Regions from separate parts of the Homo sapiens genome. Here region 2 is linked to region 1. Evidence: fine-mapped QTL for protein levels in blood plasma. A gene starts in region 1. The other region holds a variant in brackets. All regions are shown on one strand. Distances are from middle to middle. Region 1 holds the start of CRISP2 (cysteine rich secretory protein 2). Region 2 has its middle 32 kb from the start of CRISP2.

What was found. PIP is the chance, under the fine-mapping model, that this variant and not a neighbour inherited with it causes the effect. The UK Biobank Pharma Proteomics Project read protein levels with antibody pairs (Olink). The fine-mapping took linkage between variants from a reference panel, not from the people measured, so its PIPs are less certain.
Region 2: its variant is fine-mapped to the plasma level of the CRISP2 protein (UK Biobank, PIP above 0.99).

Annotation. Positions count from the first base shown.
Region 1 is chr6:49,711,945-49,714,874 of GRCh38, reverse strand. It overlaps CRISP2 (cysteine rich secretory protein 2), which reads left to right and starts at 1,332. Exons shown (of 10, transcript NM_003296.4): 1 at 1,332-1,400; 2 at 2,271-2,374.
Region 2 is chr6:49,679,928-49,682,857 of GRCh38, reverse strand. It overlaps a transcript of CRISP2 not described here. Among named protein-coding and RNA genes, the nearest start is that of CRISP2, 32 kb to the left of the region's middle. The variant T/A (reference allele first, on the strand shown) is at 1,464.

The DNA.
Region 1 (2,930 bases):
TGCTCTCATTCTGATATCATCAATGTGAATATGGGAACAAGTAATAATTACAGGAATGACTCTTCTCCAAAAATGAAAAATAAGATATTCACAGTAAATGATAGACTATTATAGTGCTGAGAATGAATTGTTCGGCACTAGAAAGAAAGAACAAATAGGTAGGCAGAGATTTTGTGCATATAGGTATTTGAAATGTCCAATTAATAACTTAAGCAAGATATGGTGAAAACATGAATATAGAAGTGAGGGACAGATTGAGGACTAGATTTCATAAATATTTAGAAAGGCAAACTGTCAGTAATGAATTTTGATATTGGATGTAGATATAAGCGTTAAGCAGTCTAAATTCCAAAATTTTTAGTCAGTGCTGCATGAACTGAAATAAGCAGCAAAAGAAAACTAAAACAATGTCTGTGTGCTGATCCCTTGAAATTACCTTGTAACACTGCCAAAGGAAAATGGCACTGAGCACCAAGTTTGTTATAGTTTCAGTTGTGCCCAAGTGAGTCTCCAGAGTTGGTGAAATCTCAAGCCTCTTATTGCATGGCTTACAGAGAACCAAGGTATGACGGATATTAATCCTTGGCTTGACATCTTTTGACCCATCTCTCTTCCTCTAGGTCATAAGCGAATTCACTCCTTTTCGCTTTGAAAACAACTGTGAATAGAAGAAAATGCACCTATTACTCATCCGCCTTCTGAGAGAGAAAACATGTCTTTAACCCATGCTTGATACGTATGCTAAACTTGCAGCCAGTAGCCTTGGGTCAGGAGTTCTGCGTATTTTCATAAGAGTTGTTCCTGTTACTCTTCGTGAATTTTCTCACCATAAAACTGTTGCCAACGGGGAAGAGGGACAAGAACATGAAGTGTTTATGAGGGAGCCTGAAACTGACAACCTGTGTAACTGGAGTGCGTCGTTGGCATGACACTGGCAGCGCACTGCAAACTTAAGCACCTGTGGACTCCTAATTAGCTCTTTAAATTGAACTACATTAATTCAGGCATTCTTGTTTGAATGCGAACGCCTCCTTTTTCAAGCCACCCCCTGGGCAACCCGAATCCTTATATGACCTCCCTCCTCCTCCTAGTACGGCGCAGGTATGCGAACAGACATTTTCTTTCCTCATCAACTGGTGGTAATGAGAAAAAGAGAACTCTGCTTTTCACAAGGGAAAACGTGCAAGATTTTCTCCGTAGTAGGGGAGGCGGGGGCGATGGGAGGAGAGCAGCTCACGTAGGCAGATAGCGGCGATGAAAGCATAAAGCCCAGTGACGTCGCCCACACGTGGCGCCTGGCAAGTGAACAATCGCGGTGAGAGGGGCGCGCCGCAGCTCCTCAACGCCGCAACGCGCCGGCCCAACTGCAGGAAGGTCTGTGCTCTGGAGCCAGGGTAAATGTAAGACCCGGATTGGAGACTAGAAATGGCTAGGGACGGGGAGGTGGGGTGAAGCACAGGGGAGAGAACCATCGTTGAGGTGAGGGGGTTTCTGATCCTCCTTCGCTCCTCTTCCGGCATCTGGAGGGCACATAGCTAATGCCGGGCAGACTGAGAGTTCAATTTTGTTGCTTAGCGCCGACCTACCATAACTTTCAACATGCTTCTCTATGTTTAGTCTATTGAAACTCTTTACCTACCTTAAAAGAGAAATCATTCTAAGTACATAAGACCCATTGAATCATAGTAGAAGCCTGAAGTCATTTCTCAATCTGCTTTTTACGAAGTCAAATTAAGACTCTTAGTTTCTAATTGATGTTTTGAATGTACAGTTATTAGAAACTGTAATAACAATTAGAGTTGGGGTCATTGACTCTGCTGGACTTTATATCATCTATTGGCTTCCAGAATTTAAAAAAAAAATGAAGAGACAAAGCTGTTACCCCCAAATCCACGTAGTTAATACTTACCATGTGGGACACTGCTTATGGAAATGATCTTTTAAAGAATGGGTTGAAGTCCTAGATAAGGGGTTGGGAGTCTTGAAAAAAGGTTGCAATTTTCCAAGCAAGTTAGCCAACTAGTAGTTACTGAACTTCAAGAAGTCCACTTTTTTGTTAGTGTTTGAAGGAAATATCAGGGCGTTGAAATACAATCTGACCTCAGAAGGACAATATGGTCTTAACGCTGAAATCAAATAAATACAGTAAATTATTAGAAACAATACTAAACAATTGAGTCAAAATTTAAGTTTGTGACAAAGATTATAGATACCATCTATAAGGGTATTCTTCACATCTTTATTTTAAATATTTTGTTTCCTTGTTCTAGGGTTATAAAATTATACACCATGGCCCTCCTAAAGACACTCTAGGAAAACCATGTCATCCTGATCTTAAAACACCTGCAAGAAAGAGCACAGTACTTCACCATTAGTAAGTAGCAAAGAAAAAAAATGGTAGCCAACTTTTCAACTATATATCAATATGGGTTTAAAGGAATAAAATGTAATTATATGGAATAGAAAAAAATATTTTTCCTTGAATATACTCTCACCAACAGTGACATTGCTTTCATTGACTCAATGAAGATGAGTATAGGTTAGATGGTTGAGGTTATGAGAGAGAAGAGCAGCAAAGAGGAGAGTATGGCATCATGGCCTATTATAGAATTCTGGCTCATCAGATGCATACACTGGGTGATTGAGCTATACAAAACTCTTCAGGCTCCTGTGTATGGCTTTCAATGAGCTGATGAGGATACAACAGCCCAGATGTTAGAGCATTTTCCTAAAGTCAGCCAGAAGGTGTCTAATAGAACCAGGCCTTGAACATGTGAATCTCGAATTAGATTATACTGATTGTATTTTCCTATAACACCTGGAAGGAAACACATGTCTCTTAAACACTTAGTAATTAGCAATTCAATCAAACAGCATATGTTTATAGAAAGCTCTTATGAGCTCAACAAACTAGCAGACATTGCAAAAGA
Region 2 (2,930 bases), 32 kb after region 1:
AGAAAAGAAGGGAGGAAGGGAGGAAGGGATGGAGGGAAGGAGGGAAAGGAGGAAGAGAAGGAGAGAGGGCAGGAATGAGGGAAGGGAGGGAGGAAGGAAGGAAAAAGAAGGAAGAAAAAAGAAAGAAAAAGAAAGAGAAAAAGAAAGAGAAAAAAGAAAAAGAAAGAGAAAGAGACAGAAAGAGAGAGAAGAAAGAAAGAAAAGAAAGAAAGAAGAAAGAAAGAAAGAAAGAAAGAAAGAAAGAAAGAAAGAAAGAAAGAAAGAAAGAAAAAGAAAGAAAGAAAAAGAAAGAAAGAGAAAGATGGAGGGAAGGAGGGAGGTGGGAAGGAAGGAGAAGGAGGAAGAGGAGGAACAGGAGGAATAGGAGGAGGAGGAGGGAGGGAGGGAGGGATGGGGAAGAAGGAAGGAAGAAAGGGAAAGAGAGAAAGAAAATAAATAGATAACTAGAGTATGTTATATGGTTGCTAGAACTAAATCAGGTGTTCAGTTTGGACATGTTGAAAGTGTAGGCATAGAGAAGACAGTTGAATATATAAGGAGGGATTTAGTCTAAAATGGAGATAAAGATTTGAAAATCATCTTTGTATAGACGGCACCTAAAGCCACAATACCACCTGAGATTCCTGGGAAGTAAGTGAAACAATATGCTAAATCCCAGAATTTAAAAAAGTTTGTGAAAATAAGAGCAAAGGTCCACCAAAAGTGTCAAAAACAAGAAGATGAGGAAAGGATGAAATAGTATAGTATAGATGCCAGAGAGACAGATGATTATTTAACTTTTATTTTTTATTACTTTATTTCACGGAGATGGATCTTTAAACTCTACAGCCTGGCACAATTATCTGAAGGAGAAAAAGAATGATCTAACCTGTGAGGACATAGTAAATAATTATTTAAATGCTTGGGGGATATTAAAAAACATTTCAAGGTGATCATGAGATCACTGTCAGTTAACAAGGAATAATGACAAGGAGGAAAGCAACATATTGATTAACATATGACAAATGGAAAGGGCAAAAAAAAATCTTGAAGCTGGGCATGGTGGTGTGCACTTGGAATCCAAGCTACTTAGGAGGCTGAGATAGGAGGATTGCTTGAACTCAGTAGTTTGAGGCCAGCCTGGGAAAAAAATAAAAGAAAACTTTGGCATTAATCTATGAGAAATTCCTCCAATTTAAAGTGATTTCATCATTTTTAAACCATGATATTATATGTAAAACAGTAAAATATAATTTTTAAATTTGCTACACTAAATTTGTTTCTTTTTGATAGTTTATAAATATAAATCAAAATTGATTCTGTTTTATAAATCTATATGTTATTGCCCACATTTAATCTAAAGTTTCAGCAGAATTCATTAAGTACTTTGTTCAAATGTGGGTCTATATACTAATATTATTATGGATATCTTAATCTAGTTGAAAAAATGCTTAATCTAGTTGAAAAATTACTACAGGGCTTAG[T/A]AACCAAAACAGCATGATACTGGTAAGTACAAAAACAGATAAACAGACCAGTGGAACAGAATAGAGAACCCAGAATTAAGACAGCACACCTACAACTATCTGATCTCTGAGAAATCTGACAAAAACAAGCAATGGGGAAAGGACTCCCTATTCAATAAATGGTGCTGGGGTAACTGACTAACCACATGTAGAAGATTAAAACTGGACCCCTTCATTAGACCATATATAAAAATTAACTCAAGATGGATTAAACACTTAAATGTAAAACCCAAAACTATAAAAACTCTGGAAGACAACTTAGGAAATACCATTTAGGGCATAGGCATGGGCAAAGATTTCATAATGAAGATGCCAAAAGCAATTGCAACAAAAACATAAATTAACAAATGGGATCTGATTAAACTAAAGAGTTTCTGTACAGCATAAGAAATTATCAACAATTAAACAGACAACCTACATAATGGGTGACAATTTTTGCAAACTATGCATCTGACAAAGGTCTAATATCTAGCATCTACAGGAAACTTAAATTTACAAGAAAAAATAAAACCTCATTAAAAAGTGGGAAAAGGATATGAACAGACACTTTTCAAAAGAAGACATTCATGCAACCAACAATCATACCAAAAAAGTTCAACATCACGGATCATTAGAGAAATGCAAATCAAAACCACAATGAGAGACCGTCTCACACCAGTCAGAATAGCTGTTATTAAAAAGTCAAAAAATAACAGATGTTGGCAAGGTTGTGGAGAAAAGGAATGCTTATACACTGTTGGTGAGAGTGTAAATTAGTTCAGCCATTGTAGATGACAGTGTGGCAATTCCTCAAAGACCTAAAGTCATAAATACCATTCAACTCAGCAATCCCATTACTGGGTATATACCCAAAGGAATATGAGTTGTTCTATCATAAAGACACGTGCACATATATGTTAATTGCAGCACTATTCACAATAGCAAAGACATGGAATCAACCTAAATGCCCATCAATGATAGACTGGAAAAAAGAAAATGTGGTACATATACACCATAGAATATTATGCAGCCATAAAAAAGAATGAGATCATGTCCTATGCAGGAACATGGATAGAGCTGGAGGCCATTATCATTAGGAAACTAACACAGAAACAGAAAACCAAACACCACATATTCTCACTTATAAGTGGGAGCTAAATGATGAGAACTCATGGACACATACAGGGGAACAACACACACTGGAACTTATCAGAGGGTGGAGGATGCAGGAGGGAGAGGATCAGGAAAAATAACTGATGGATACTAGGCCTAATACCTGGGTGATGAAATAATCTGTACAACAAACTGCTATGATACAACTTTACCTATGTAACAAACCTGCACATATACCCTTAATTTAAAATAAAAGTCGGCTGGGTGCAGTGGCTCACACCTGTAATCCCAGCACTTTGGAAGGCCACAGCTGGTGGATCACCTGAGGTCAGGAGT